Regions from separate parts of the Homo sapiens genome. Here region 1 is linked to region 2. Evidence: fine-mapped expression QTL. Tissue or cell type: hypothalamus. Region 2 holds a variant in brackets; the other region holds the start of a gene. All regions are shown on one strand. Distances are between the middles of the regions.

The links. PIP is the estimated chance that this variant, and not a neighbour inherited with it, causes the effect.
Region 1: CRTAP starts here. The variant in region 2 is fine-mapped to the expression of CRTAP in hypothalamus (GTEx, PIP 0.95).

What each region holds. Positions count from the first base shown.
Region 1 is chr3:33,110,137-33,118,239 of GRCh38, forward strand. CRTAP (cartilage associated protein) reads left to right here and starts at 3,878. Exons shown (of 7, transcript NM_006371.5): 1 at 3,878-4,412. The coding sequence starts at 3,942. RefSeq lists enhancers at 1,499-1,708, 4,589-5,580 and silencers at 3,708-4,007, 4,448-4,637, 6,164-6,312.
Region 2 is chr3:34,066,659-34,074,761 of GRCh38, forward strand. No RefSeq gene overlaps it. Among named protein-coding and RNA genes, the nearest start is that of LINC01811, 89 kb to the right of the region's middle. The variant G/A (reference allele first, on the strand shown) is at 3,041.

The sequences.
Region 1 (8,103 bases), 960 kb before region 2:
TGCTGGGATTACAGGTGTGAGCCACCGCGCCCAGCCTATCATTCTCTTTTCAATATAGTTTTACCCTGTATAAGGTAGGACTATATTATTTTTACTCCTAAATAATACATTGTGTGTTTTTCCATATTTTAAAACTTTAGGGTCGGGCGTGGTGGCTCACACCTGTAATCCCAGCACTTTGGGAGGCCGAGGTGGATGGATCACAAGGTCAGGAGTTCAAGACCAGCCTAGCCAAGATGGTGAAACCCTGTCTATACTAAAAACTACAAAAATTAGCCAGGTGCAGGCCGGGTGCAGTGGCTCACGCATGTAATCCCAGCACTTTGGGAGGCCGAGATGGGTGGATCACTTGAGGTCAGGAGTTTGAGACCAGCCTGACCAACATGGTAAAACCCCATCTCTACTAAAAATACAAAATATTAGCCAGCTGTGGTGGCGGGCGCCCGTAATCCCAGCTACTCAGGAGGCTGAGGCAGGAGAATTGCTTGAAACTGGGAGGCAGAGGTTGCAGTGAGCCGAGATCGCACCACTGTACTCCAGCCTGGGCGACAGAGTGAGACTCAGTCTTAAAAAAAAAAAAAAAAAAATTAGCTGGGTGTGGTGGCAGGTGCCTGTAATCCCAGCTACTCGGGAAGCTGAGGCAGGAGAATCGCTTGAACCCGGGCGGTAGAGGTTGCAGTGAGCCAAGATGGCGCCACTGCACTCCAGCCTGGGCGACAGAGCGAGACTCTGTCTCAAAAAAAAAAAAACAAAAAACAAAAAACAAACAAACAAAAAAACTTTAGGCAAATGGAATCATTCTCAATGGTTCCCCCCCGCCCCCAGATTGAACTGTTATTTGTAGCTCTAATTCTTTCATTTTCCCTGCTATAATATATTCTTCTATATGCATTTACTCTCATTTTTTTTTAAATCTACTCTTCTGTTTATGGACAGGTTATTCCTGCTTTCTGCCATTAAGAACAATGTTGCGTTACCTTACTGTAGACACTTGTTAATTACAAAAGAAAACAAATGAAGTAGGGAAAACAGACATCACCTTAATAAAGTGATCAAAATTAACACAGACAAGGGGTGGGCATTGTGTTATTTAGATTTTACACCTGAGACGGATGGCACATTGCTTCTGTGGCATTCTAGCCAAAGAGCTTAATCTGAATTTAGTCATGAGCTTAATCTGAATTTAGTCATGAGCTTAATCTGAATTTAGTCATGAGGAAACATCAGGAAAACCTCAAATGAGGAACTTTTTATAAAGTTAACTGGCCTGTGTTCTTTAAAAAAAAAAAAAAAAAAAGGCCAGGCGCGGTGGCTCATGCCTGTAATCCCAGCACTTTAGGAGGCCGAGGCAGGTGGATCATGAGGTCAGGAGTTTGAGACCAGACTGACCAATACGGTGAAACCAGTCTCTACTAAAAATACAAACATTAGCCTGGCATGGTGGCACGGGCCTGTAATCTTAGCTACTCAGGAGGCTGAGGCAGGAGAATCGCTTGAACCCTGGAGGTGGAGATTGCAGTGAGCTGAGATCATGCCATTGCACTCCAGCCTCTGCAGCAGAGCGAGACTCCATCTCAAAACAAAACAAAAAACAAAAAAAAGACTTTATTTTTTAGAGTGGTTTTAGATTCATAGCGAAACTGAGCGGAAACTACAGAGTTCAAATATACTCCATGACCCTACAACATGCGCAAGCTCCCCCACTGTCAATGTCTTGCACTAGAATGGTACATTTGTTACAATCAATGAACCTACATCAACACATCGTTATCACCCAAAGTCCGGTTTACATTAGGGCTCACTCTTAGTGTTGTACATATTATGGATTTTAACAAATGTATAGCATATATCCACCATTATACTATCATATAGAATAGTTTCACTGCTCCAATAATCCTGTCCTCTACCCATTCATTCCTCCCTTTCCATAATTCTCAGCAACCACTGATCCTTTTACTGTCTCCATAGTTTTGCCTTTTCCAGAATGTCATTTGGCTGGAATCACACAGTATGTAGCCTTTTCAGTTTGGCTTCTTTCAACCAGTAATATGCATTTAAGACTTCTCCATGTCTTTTCATGGCTTGATAGCTCATTTCTTTTTGGCTTGGAATAAAATTCCATTGTGTGTATATACCACAGTTTATGTATCCACTTACCCACTGAAGGACATCTTGGTTGATTCCAAGTTATGGTAATTGTGAATAAAGTTGCTACAAACATCCATTCGCAGGTGTGTGCATAAGTTTTAACCCATTTGGGTAAATACCAAGAAGTGCAATTTCTGGATTGTATGAGTAGAGTATGCCTAGTTTTGTAAGAAACGGCCCAACTGTCTTCTAAACTGTATGTACCATTTTGCATTGCCACTATCAATGAATGAGAGTTCCTGTTGCTCCACATCCTTGTCAGCATGTGACGTTGTCAGTGTTTTGGATTTTGTAGTGGTATCTCATTGCTGTTTTGGCCTATATTTTTCAAAAATGACAACGGCATGACAAGAAAAGCCGAGGAACCAGTTTAAAGGATATGAAATAGACTAGATGTAACAGTGATCACGGATGGACTGCATCCTAAGAGAAAAAAGTGCCATGAAAGACATAATTGGAACAGCTGACATAACCGGAAATGGAACATGATTAAAGTCTTCTATCAGTATTAAATTTCCTAAATTTGATTGTCTGGTAGTTTCATTCTTAGGACATACATACTGAAAGACTAAGGGGTTGGGCACGGTGGCTCACGCCTGTAATCCCAGCACTTTGGGAGGCAGAGGCAGGTAGATCACCTAAGGTCAGGAGTTCAAGAACAGCCTGGCCAACATGGCAAAACCTCATCTCTAGTAAAAAATAGAAAAATTAGCCAGGTATGGTGGTGTGTGCCTATGATCCCAGCTACTCGGGAGGCTAAGGCAGGGAGAATTGCTTGAACCCGGGAGGCGGAGGTTGCAGTGAGCCGAGATCGCGCCACTGCACTCCAGCCTGGGTGACAGGGCGAGACTCCGTCTCAAAAAAAAAAAAAGGAAAAAAAAAAAGAAAAAAAAAAGACTAACGGACAGTGGGCCTGATACATGCAACCTATCTCAAATGAGTCAGAAAAAAATGTAAAGATAGAAATGTGGTATAACGTTAGCAACTTGTGAATCTTGATGAAGGGTATATAGGAACTTTTTGTACTGTTTTTGCAGCTTTCTTGTAAATTATTTCAAGATTTAAAAGTTTAAAGATTTTTTAAAAGTGCTGCCATTAACATTCCATCCATATTTTTTGATGCACACGCGCAAGCTTCTCCAGCATATTCCACCGAATGGTGTTGCAGATTCATAAGGTGTGCACATCTTCAACCTGACTAGCTATACAGTTTACAAAGTGCTGACATCCTTATTAATTTTATTTTTGCACTGTCTTTTTCTCTCACTAAAATTTAAGGTTGGGCAGTGCTATTAAAAGTGCGGCCCTTGGGCCCGCAGCATTAGCCTCATCAGGGTGCTGGTTAAACACACAAATCGTCAGACCTCCACCCCAGACTTTCTGAATCAGAAACTCTGGGGGCACAGCCCAGGAATCTTCGTTTTCACAAACCTCCAAACGAATATAAAGATCGTAGATTATATAGACCGTAGGGCCGATGTATATAATCTATTAGGGCCGCGTCGGCCTTGCAGGCGGGTCTCCAAGTGAATGAGCGGCAGAGTCCCATCATGCGCATCAGCCTGCGTGAACCAGTGCGCAGCGCGCCTTTCCCGGGCACCCTCTAGGTGCTGGCAGCTGGCGCCCAGATCCCCCGGCTGGGTGGGGAGGGGCGGCCGGACGGGGCGGGCCGGAGGCTGGCGTCCCCGCCCCGAAAGCACTGGGCCCGCCGCGTCGCACCGTCCTCTTTCCTTTCCTTCTCCCTCCCCTTTTCCCTTCCTTCGTCCCTTCCTTCCTTCCTTTCGCCGGGCGCGATGGAGCCGGGGCGCCGGGGGGCCGCGGCGCTGCTAGCGCTGCTGTGCGTGGCCTGCGCGCTGCGCGCCGGGCGCGCCCAATACGAACGCTACAGCTTCCGCAGCTTCCCACGGGACGAGCTGATGCCGCTCGAGTCGGCCTACCGGCACGCGCTGGACAAGTACAGCGGCGAGCACTGGGCCGAGAGCGTGGGCTACCTGGAGATCAGCCTGCGGCTGCACCGCTTGCTGCGCGACAGCGAGGCCTTCTGCCACCGCAACTGCAGCGCCGCGCCGCAGCCCGAGCCCGCCGCCGGCCTCGCCAGCTATCCCGAGCTGCGCCTCTTCGGGGGCCTGCTGCGCCGCGCGCACTGCCTCAAGCGCTGCAAGCAGGGCCTGCCAGCCTTCCGCCAGTCCCAGCCCAGCCGCGAGGTGCTGGCGGACTTCCAGCGCCGCGAGCCCTACAAGTTCCTGCAGTTCGCTTACTTCAAGGCAAGTCCGCCTCGCCCCGTCCCAGGCCCCGGCCCCGCCCCTGACCCAGCCTCCAGGCCCTAGCCCCGCCCCTGCGCCCGGGGCCGCGTTGCCCCTCCAGTTCTAGACCTGGCTCCCTCCCATCCAGCCCTGCCAAAGGTCTCCTCCAAGTCCTGTCTCCTTCTTCATCTCAACTAGAGATGAAAATGCCTTTCTTGAAGGGTAACTCTAAGGTAGAGAATACGTACACAGAACGCAGTACAGCGCCAGGCACCCAACAAAGTGCCTGATAAATGTTCTCTGTTATTTGAGGGCAGACGCCTCTTTTCTGTATATACCATTAAAGTCGCCTTTTTTCTCAAGTGAGCGGTGACTTGCGATAATAAAGCAGAAGACCTGAGGAGCCGACAAGTACCTTTTATTTTTATTTTTTGTTGAGACAGGGTCTCACAGTCGCCCAGGCTGGAGTGCAGAGGCGCTATCATGGCTCACTGCAGCCTTGACCTCCTCAGGCTCAGGTGATCCTCCACCTCAGCCTCCTGAGTAGCTGGGATTATAGGCGCGCGCCACCACACCTAGCTAATTTTTTGGTATTTTCTGTAGAGACAGAGTTTCGCCACGTTGCCCAGGCTGATCTCGAACTCCCGGACTCAAGTGATCCTCCCACCTCGCCTCCCAGAGTTCTGGGATTACAGTCGTGAGCCATTGCACCCAGCTGACTAGTTCCTTTTAAAGAGGATGAAATTGAGGCCAGGGAAGGGCAGGGACTCCTTGCAAGGACACATCCCTGCTTAAAGGGGAACTCGTGCACCGTGAGTCATCAGGATTGGCCCTCTCCGCTGTTTCTCTCTTTCATCTAGAATTTAACACAGTTCACTGCCTCCTTTTAATGGCTGCTTAAGTTCTCTCTGTGATTGCTGGCTAAAAATAGCCACAAATTGCAGTTCTCTATCCTATGGGTTCTCACTCCGAGGACCCACAAGTTTTAAGAATGGTTAGATTCCCTGTCACTAGATAAAGAGGCTCTAGCTTGGTGGGTCCTCACAGGGTTTGGCTAAAAGAGCCCTCTCAAAGCCCAGTTTCTACTTTCTCTGAGAAAGATTTTAAAAGGAATATATTGTGTTTTTTAAAATTACTACAAAAATAGATTCATGGCATATCCTAGACTCTTGAGGTAGAAGGTTTTTGTTTTTAAACTTTGTTTTCAGTTTCTGGACTGCAAGATCTGTTTTTTCAGATTTCCACCGAGACAGAGCCACGTGTATATTGTATTTATATGAGCAATAAAATAACACAAAACCCCAAAGAGGGGAAAAGCTGGGTTACTTCTATACTTCTATGCTTAGTTACAGTTTTATTTAAAGTATCAGTTTTGTGAATGTTTGTTCTGGCAATTAAAAAAAAACAGTTTTAAAACAGAAGCAGGGAATGAGATTAATAAAATTCCAGAATGTTGAAAATGAGGGCTGGTTCATACAAAGCATCATTTTTTAAGCTAAAAATGACTTATCTAATTCTTTTTTTGTATAGCTTTTGGCAAATATGTTCTGAACCAAATTTAGGTCACATAATCAAGAGGAAATCATTTTATTTTTAAACCTAGAGAATACTAGAACCTCTGATTTCTTTAATATACAGATGAATTTGAACAAGTGTTACAGGGAAGAGGGGAAGAACATTTTACTCAATGTGACCAAAAGGCATGGGTTTTCTCTTTCATCATGGTGGCCCCAAAAGGTTAGGATGGTCATAGCTTCTCTTCAAAACCCTTTACAGGTCTTGTAACAATCACTTAGTTGAAAGTCAGTAAAATACTATCTATCTATCTGTCTATCTATCTGTTTTTTTTGAGACACAGTTTCACTTTGTCACCCAGACTGGAATGCAGTGGCACGATCTCAGCTCGCTGCAACCTCTGCCTCCAGGGTGCAAGCAATTCTTGTATCTCAGCCTCCTGAGTAGCTGGGATTACGGGCATGTGCCACCACACCCAGCTAATTTTTGTATTTTTAGTAGAGATGGGGTTTCACCATGTTGGCCAGGCTGGTCTCGAACTTCTAACCTCAAGTGATCCACCTACCTTGGCCTCCCAAAATGCTGAGATTACAGTCTGGGATTTGAACCACCATGCCCGGCCACCATCTTAACATTTTGAGATCTCATATAGGGCAGGAAAAAGCTAAGAATTTTATTAATAAACGTGAATGTTACTTAATTGTTTCAATGGAAGATATAACTGAAAAAGTAATTTTTGGTGGAGATATTGTATGGTGTATTTTTTCTCAATGATGTTTATGGCTTGGCATGATGGCTCATGCCTATAATCCCAGCACTTTGGGATGCCAAGGTGGGAGGATCTCTTGAGTCCAAGAGTTCAAGACCAGCCTGGGCAATATAATGAGATCTCATCTGTACAAAAACATTAAAAAATTAGCCGGGTGTGGTGGCGTGCCTTTCTAGTTTCAGCTACTCAGGAGGCTGAGGCTGGAGGATCACTTGAGCCCAGAAAGTCAAGGCTGCAGTGAGCTGTGATCTTACCACTGCACTCCAGCCTGGGTGACAGAACAAGACTCTTGTGTCAAAAAAAAGTGATGTTTACGTGTTTAAACTCTGTTTATGGATAGAGAGGAAAAGATGGGTGGCAGGCACATACATTCTACCTGGCACCTGAAGGCTGGAGGTCGATATGAAGGTAGATAGTGCGCTGTGGCAGGACATGGATAAATGTTACTCTGCTGTTCTGAGTTGCAGTTCTCTGTTTCAGTGATTAAGGAGAAATGCCTCAATTGATCACTGGAATAGCAATGGTGGGTTCCGACTGCCAGAGGGAGGCGAGGAGGTTTGGATGTGTGCTCTTGTAGAAAAGGGCTGTGCTACTGGTGTGCAGCCTCAGGTGCATCATAGGTTTCTCGTCACCAGCCTACTCTAGGTCCATGTCATTAGCTTTCTTTGGGTTCTCTCCACAATTACCATCTTCCACGAAAAACTCATTTTTCTCATAGGCCAAGCAAAAAGTAGGCCGGAGCACTTCATCAAATCCTTAATGACTGTTGAGCTCTAACCTGGACAGAGAACACTGACTCACAGGCACTGTTAACCCCAGGCCTTGCCTGGCTGTGGCCTCTAACTCCCCGGAACCACAGGGCCTGCCTCTGTGTCATGGCTGATTTAGGGTGGCTCATGCTGGTGGCTGTATCTCAGGAACCCAAGGCAAGGTGGTTCCCTCCATCCCTACCACCTTCTCCAAAATCTGCCTGGGGTCTGTCAGAGGTTTGGTAGCCAAGATGTGTCTCCATGTTCCAGCTGCAGAGCCTGAGTTGAAGTAAATAAAATCACTCTTTTCTCTTCAGGAAGAGATTCCGTTTTGTAAAACATCCTAAGTTAGAAGCCTTAAAAATCCTACTCTGTGCCCCTCTTTCTATTCCTTTCTTTCTTTCTTTCTTTCTTTTTTGAGACGGAATCTCACTGTGTCACCCAGACTGGAGTGCAGTGGTGCGATCCTGGCTCACTGCAACCTCCGCCCCCCGGGTTCAAGTGATTCTCCTGCCTCAGCCTCCCGAGTAGCTGGGATTACAAGCACCTGCCACTGTGCCTGGCTAATTTTTGTCTTTTTAGTAGAGATGGGGTTTCATCATCTTGGCCAGGCTGATCTTGGACTCCTGACCTCGTGATCCACCCACCTCGACCTCCTAAAGTGCTGGGATTACAGGCA
Region 2 (8,103 bases):
TGGGAGATCACAGGAAACTTTTATGTGTTGTTCCAAAGCATTGAGCACATTGAAATCTACATATACACATCCATTAAAAACATGGTATGGAAAGGGCAGAACTTTAGTATTCTTTACTGTATGTAAAGCCTCATAGTTTAGCTGAAATAAGCTTTGTACTTTGTATTTGTTTCTGAAGTCTCAATCTAGGTCTTGGTTATCAGACTTTTTTTCTGCAATAAAGAAACCAATGAAGCTTTGAATGAACAACAACAACAAAAAGATCTTAGGAAGACAATGTGGCCACTCGTACTCCAGCCACATTCAACTCGGGAGAAAAATATTAATAAGGGTGCTGAGAGCAGTTCCAGTGATCCTCAAGGGCTTATGGCTTTTAGAAGGGCAAAAGTTTGGCATAAAACTTGCTAGGGAGCCAGGGACCAAAAGGCTACAAGTTTCTGCTGAGAATCAGAGCACAGCCTTTCTGCATCCTGGGGCTTGGCTTGCCTCCTACCCTTTCTTGCTTCCTGCACCACTCTGTATTCTTCCCATTCCCAACCCTTCCACCACAGGCTTTTGGCACCATTACCCAATAAGATAGGAGAGAAAAAAGCCAGTAGAAGGCTGGGAGGTGCGCAGGAGTCCCTTTGGAATGGGTTTCCCTCCTTCCCTCTTTGAAAATGAAGGAAGTGCCTCAAAGAAAACAACACTTTGTTCCCTTCTCTCATCTCACACGGTCTGAAATTTGCTTTCTTCCAAACAATACCCAATTCTTTTATTTGTGTTTCCTTTCTGGCCCTCTATTTATACAAGGTATTTCTATTGTTTTTCTTGCCGTCTCTCTCTTTCTGGTGCTGCCTCTGACTCTGTTTCTTCCTCCTCTTCCTTTTTCTCCCTCTAGTTTCTAGCTTGTATCTGGCCCTGCTGAGAAAACATAATACTGTCTTATTTGTGATTCTGCAGTCATTTCCATGGCAACCGACCCATGGCCCAGGTATGAGTCTGTGCCTTCGCCATAGTACTGTTCAAGAGAAAAGGCCTTTATTAAAGCTGAGTGCCAGCAGTTTCCCTCCTGCAGCCCTTGCCAAGAGAGGAATTTCTTCAGGACTCAAAGAAGGGACACAGAAGTCAAACACAGGGTTCCCAGGTTTCTCAAAATTTCTCCAGTGTAAATGAACCCCCCTCAGCCTGCCTCACGTACATGCACACGTAGGCACACCCACACACACAGGCACACACCACTTCTATTTCTGGACCTATAGCCACAGAGGGTATTTTTCTTTTGAAGGGAATCAGCTTTGATGCTGTGGCCTGGAACAAAAGCTTATGTTTGAAATGAGAGATGGGCTCAGCTGTTTAAGCCTCCTGTGTGTAGAATGCGGGGTTGGGAGAGAGCTGGGACAATGGCAAGGACAAGGATGGATAAAGCTTATGAGGGTCGTGATGTGGGAATATGGAAAAGATTTTAGAGCCCCTAACTCAATGATGAACAAGAGAGATAGGGAGAAAAAAGGATTTCGATGGAGTTTTTAAAACAGGAGCTCGTGAAATGTTTGCTATTGTGTAATGTGACTTATACACAGTAAAATGATATGACATGACAAGGGAGAATTACATCTTTCCTCAGGTGCCTCTCTCCCATTTTCTGCCCTTTTTCTGTGGATCACTACGTTTTGTTCCCTTTCACTTTTGTCTGGGTCAAAGGAATATCATTTTGGGAAGATGCTAGAAACAGTCTATTTCTAAGGCCCCTCTTCCCTCCTTTGCCCTCCCTCCCACTGGAGCGCTTGAATCCAGATAAAGAGAAGACAAAGGAAGGGTCTCTCTCCCATCCCTCCTGAGAAATGTCTGCACATTAAAAACAAATGGAACCTGCTTACAACCTGGAGCCAAGAGGGTGTTCTGGGTTTCTACTACAACCAAGATGAGTTAATCTTTATTAAGCAGATGTATAGAGGACCAGCTTGTCTCCATAACATCTCCACGGCCTTCCGCTTCCCATTTCTTTTATTGATCTGCCTGTCTAAATGAGTACTTCTAAACTCGGTGGGAGTTTTCCAATTAGATAAAAGGCAATTCATGTCGCCTGCTGCCTCCGTGCTGCACTAACAGCCCCAAACTAAGAGAGCATATTCAAGACTTCTTGGCAGAACAACCTGCTTTAATCAAGGCGGCCCCCTCCTGAGCGCCCTCATCTGCAGGACATTTCTCTGAATATGTGAAGGTTTTCTTTATTGGAGGTTGAGAAAAATGGGCTTCTTTTCCAGGAGTGGGGGTTTCAAGGTACCCTGTGTAGTTAATGAAGAAGTGCATAGGCCCACTCTCTGGGCTGGTGTTTCAGAAAAGGCATTTTGGCAAGCCTTTTTGGAACAAACTGCAACTTGAGGGTCTTCAGATGTGTGAGACTTCTGCTAGGAGCAGACCTTGCGGCTTTGGACTCTCACAGCCTCCTGGGGTCCTCCTGTGCCTGGATGAGTTGTAGCTCAGGTAGGCAGTGTTCTAAGGGCTCCATCTGCTGTGAGGAGGGCCAAAGAGAGGATGGAGGGGTGGTGCCACAGAAGTGAGCCCTTCTATCCCAGGCTGTGCATCATTGTCCATTGGCGAATACAGGTGGTCCAAAGCCTGGACACCAGCAGGGGCCTCCCATGACCCACTGTAGCTGGTCCAAGCCTTCTGCCTGAAGTTCAAGGTCTTTTTGCAAGGCAGCCTTGCCTCTTCTCCTTCTTAACCCTCTCTGTCCTGGCCTGGCTCATCTTCCACATAGCTAGGCTGGTATATTTTGTGACTTTGGGTCATCCTTTTTTTCTACCTTAAAGGGCTGCCCTCCTCACCCAGAGAAGGAAAGTCTCAGCTTTCCATCTCTCTTCCACCTCCAGGTTTCTTTCATCCTGTTAGTATTGTCTCACTTATTGCTTGGTCACTAATTAGAGCTACTACCCTTTATTGAGTGCTTGCCATGTGTCAGGCACTGTGTTGGGGTGTTTATGTGTAATTAACAAAGCCAAACTTCACAATGTCCCTATAAATAGGTGCTATTACTACCCCTCATTTTATGGATGAA[G/A]AAACTGAGGCAAATCACCTTGCTAAAGGCCAGATAAGCACTGAAATCACATCTGTGTGATTCCAAAATTCTTAGAATTTAGCATGCCTAGGCAAGGATGAATAATAATCATAAACGTAGTGAAAATAAGTTGTTTGTGTTTGAAGTCACATAGCACAACCCATGTTAGCAGAACATAAGGTTAGCAACAATGATCTTTGACTGTGCAGCCTTCTCAGGTAAAATGGCTAGGCTCTCCCAATTTCCTTCTACCTCTAAAGCACCTGCATTTTTGTTGGAGACTAATAAAGCTTTCCTATAGCCACTCTATGGGAAAATCTCTGTGACAGGGCCTGGGGACCCCATTTAGGAAACTATGGGAGGTCTAGTTGGTATCTAATTGGCAAAGGATTTGCTTCCCTTAAGTTTTGTAGCTCCCAAAGGGAAAGACTTAGATCTTTAGAATTTTTTTTGAAACAGGGTCTCACTCGAGTGTCCTGGCTGGAGTGCAGTGGTGCAGTCTTGGCTCACTGCAACCTCTGCCTTCTGGATTCAAGCAATAGTCCTGCCTCAGCCTCCTGAGTAGCTGGGACCATAGGCACACACCTTGCCTGGCTGATTTTTGTATATTTTGTAGAGAAGGGGTTTCACTGAGCTCAAGTGATTCTCCCACCTTGGCCTCCAAAAGCTCTGGGATTACAGGTGTAAACCACCATGACCAGCTTAGATATTTTTTATAGCTTCCTCTCTCTCAAGGAATGTAGGCCAAGTTGCTCTGAGAGGCGGTTGGGGGCATTTACAAACATTGCTCTCAAAAGTGGTCAGCTCTGCCAACCTCAAACAAATGCTTCAGAAAAGAGTGCAGCCTCCTCAGTTCAGACCTCCTCTTTCTCCAGAGAAGTTTCTTGTTTTCCACAGGCAGGAAGCATCTTTGTTCTTTCTGTTTTCTCAGGATTCTCCATTCTGGTGTTCTGGAATTCACCTACTAGTCTCAAAAATTGCACTTTGCCATTCTTCCCAAAGGGCAGACAGGTTCTATACAAACAAGGTTTTTGGCAGTTAGTGCTGGGAGGTCAGACCCATCTAGTCTGATGTGGTGATAGGTGCCCTCCTTCACACCCCCACCTTCAGTTGATTTTTGCAGCTGCTTGACAGAACCTAGAAGGCAGGGGAGGTAGCCAGGTTCTTCTGTGGCCACCACTGGTACCTGATTACTGGGCTTGCTGAGCACTGGGCTGGGTATGGAGATGTCCAATAACCACTGTCTGTGTTGGCACAATGTGAACCCAAAGCAAAGTTGAAGGTTAAGGCAAGGAATGTGGTAGAGGTCGTCGATCGCGAGATGACTTTGCCATTGAGTCATACCCTTCTCTTCCATTTCTGCTTCTGGCTCAGCATTTGAGTAATCCAGACCCAGCCTAGGCAGTGGAGCATCTCCATTAGCTCTCCCCTTCCCTTCTCTTCCCCTCTTGCACTCACAGCACAGCCTCAGGAGAGGCACAGCTGGATTTACACTTGCCTGTATTGCTTTGGTGGACAAAACTAGGTCTTTCTGTGACCCACGATAATCACACTGTCTGTATGAGGAGAGCCAGGGTGGTGAGGAATGAGACTCCTCTTGAATACTGAATTTCTGGGTCTTGACTTCTCAGCAGTGGCATCTTCTTTCCTGGCAGGCATTGTCACATTATCGTTTCAGCTGCACCTGGGGAATGAAAGCCAGAGAATGATGTGGCTGCATTGTTCAGAAGCCTCAGGCACCTGCTGTTCAGAATTTCCATGAAGCCACTGCAGAAGGCTCTGGAAAGAGGCATTTGACCTTCCCTTACATCAGAAGACAGAAGAGCCAGGGACTAGCATTGGAAATAGAGCCTATTCTAGCTGGAAGGATTCACCTTTGCTCTTGGGAAGAAAAGGAAGTGTTTGAAGATTTAGTAAATCTTCTGTTCATTATCAAGCCCCAGCAGGACTTTATGATAATTTTTATAACTTCTTCATTCAAAACTCTAGGTGCTATGAAGGTTAATAACTTGTGTTTATCAAAACTTCCCTTCAAGGAACTCAGAGAGCTTTGTAGACATTATCTAATTCAGCAGCACCACAGGACAAGGAAACAGGAAAGGGGGAGAGGATGAACAGACAAAATTATTCCAATTTAGGAGAACTGATAATATTAATAGCTCCAACAGGGAGTTTAAGTGAGTTTTGGAAATCACAGTACAATTTGTAAGCCATCCAGGAGGAGGTCTCTTCACCCCCAGCACTGGCTGCTTCAGACCACCATCCAGTTCCACCGCTGTCAGTGGGAGGGAGATGGGACACTCGAATACAATTTTCTCATCTGTAAAGTGGGGCAATAAGTCTTATTTTTTGGCATTGTTGTGAGATTTAGTAAGGTAAAGGAGTAAAGGTACCAGCACGGTGATTGGCATTTTGTTAGTGCTCGATGAATATCACCTCCCCATGCCCCACTTTCTAGGCAGCCACAGAATATTTTCCTGGTTGACTGAAGGAGCAAATTGCATGTCTTGTACTCTGCTGAGTATGAGGAAGAAATGTGGGATGCAGGGATTATTTGAGGATAAGGGAACAGTTGTCATTTCTCACCTCTGGAAATTCTGACGTCCAAAGGGCACAGCCTAATAATGTGAGAAAACTGACCCTCCCTCCCTGAAACCTTGAGCAAAAAGAGCACATATCTGAGTAGAAAGTGAAATGGAGATTTGAAGTAATTTTATGGTTAATTGGACTGGGGGTGAAAAAAAAAGCCTCTGCCTGAATTGTCTTTGGCTTTCCAGGGTTGAGTCATTTGTGGAGGTTTACATTGCTCAGCTCATTACACCAGTCTTCCATTTTGCTCTCACTGGAAAAGGAAGCTTCCATGAGTAGGCACTTGACCTGTGTCTGGTTTGGAGTATTCAAGAATGGCTAGAGATCTCCAATTTTAAGGCAGGAAATGGCTTGAAAGATCTTCCTCCCAAGATCCACAAATAAGGATGAGTGGTACCGCAACCCTATTTAGTATCTGTGACTTTTTGGGGTCTTAAAAGTCATATGGAGAAGAGAAAAGGAAGGACTCATACAACCAAAGGTCCTTAGGAGCTTTACTGGTGTCCTCATGACCAACCAGTGTGGGGAGCCAGGGCTTGGACTGCTCCCAACCAGGCTCTCCCATTGCATATTCTGAACAAGACCTGGGTAAGAAAATGAAACACTCCTCTTTTGTTGGTTTCTTTGTCATTTTCACACTAATTTTAGCCCTGGTTCATCCATGCATATCAGGTGGGATTACTGTGGGGCAGCAGAAGCTTTTGGCTTACAGTCAGAGGTCTGAAGTTCCTTTTGTTTCCTCCTACAGAAGCTTGTCTGTCTTTGGCACACTCTAGCCCTGGAGGGCTTTGCCAGATATCTAGCCATCAATGGTATTGCTTGAATTTACCTTCTCTTGTCCTGCATCTTAAAGCAAATAAATTTTGTACTTACATGTGTTAGCTAGTGAAAAGACAAAAGCACACTGTGCCAAGGCAAAAGGGATGGTAGAGCACTGCCAGGTGGTTGTGGTGATAGGGAAATGATGACTAGAAATATGGATGTCATGTAGCTTAATCTAGGGGGCCAACTTTTCACCTAATGAGAGTGCAGAATTGCTGTCTCAATTTGAATGGGAGCCATGCTGAGCATTAAGGCCATTTTACTGATGCCACATTGCAAACACAGTGAAGACACAAAAGAAGACAAAAGTTTTGTTTTGCTGCTAAGTAGGCCTTTCCTCTTCTCTTCAGATTACAATTATTATTCAAAGTTTAGAAGAGGAAGTAAATATACTCATTGAAATGTTCTTTGCTAGCCTCACCTTGAAGCCACACAGATTGCTCTAGCATCTTAAGACAAATTTCTTTCCTGGGTATTACCTAGAGAGTGATGAAAACTACTTTCCCTGGCTCTCAGCTGAGGCCTCAGAGCCAGGCGGAAAGCTGTTCTGAGACCCTTACCTCTGAATGTCTCAATTCCAGTAGTTTTAAATCTCAGCCATAAATGTTTCAGAAGAGTGTCTTTTTTTTTTTTTTTTTTGCACTGGAGGTGTATATTCAGTGATTTAATGACCCATCCTGTGACCTAGTATTGCTATTGCTGTTGAATGTATAATTCTCTACTTGAAGATGGGCTTTGTTTTTCATCAGTCTCCTAGGCTTTAATTGGAGAATGTCTCACGAAATGCATAAAGAACAGGTGCTTAGGACTCATGCAGCAATTAGGAGGGAGATCCGGGTTATCATCCAACAAAGCGGCATCCTCTAGGGCTGGGAGTTGAGAGGAGGCTGAGTGAAGAGCTGGATTTGGCTCCTAATTTAATGAGCATTAAGTTAAACTAAAATTAGTAGTGTGCATTGTGGAACCTGTGAAATAGAGGAAGAAAAACCACATGTAGTTCAAGACCAGTACTGGAGGGCCTTGGCAAAGCTGCTAGCAAATAGGTGTGGCCAGGGTTGGTTGTGTGGTCTCAGGTCCACACCTGATTGGCCATGGACAATTAACCCAAGTCCTAGGCCATCTGCCAGGTGGTTTGCTAGACCCTGGGTAGTTGCAATGTGAGGATCTGTTTGAATGCTTAGCAAGTTATGTTCTTTCTGATTGAAAGGTCACTGACTTGTCCTGAGGGAGAGAGACTTCTAGAGCCAGTACATGTAAGCATTCCTCCCTTCCCTACTAGTCCAAATCTGTCCTTGATTGCTTCCCAAAGATTTGGAAATTTCTTTCTCTGAAAAGTTATTGTGCATTCATTCATTTACTTATTTATCAAATACCTTTTGAAAGCTATGTACTAGATAGAATGTTGGAAATAGAGTGATGAACAAACACAGTCCTACTCCAAGGATTTGGTGCCTGGTGGGGAAGACAGGTGCATCTACAGACGCTTTCCATCTGAGGGTAGTAATTGCTAGGATGGTTGTTTTCACACGTGAAGGGAAGAATTTAACTCAGTCTCTCTTTCTCTCTTTCTCTCTCTGTGTGTGTGTGTGTGTGTGTGTGTGTGTGTGTGTGTGTGTGTGTGTGTGTTTTCCAGGGAAGGTTTCCACAGAGAG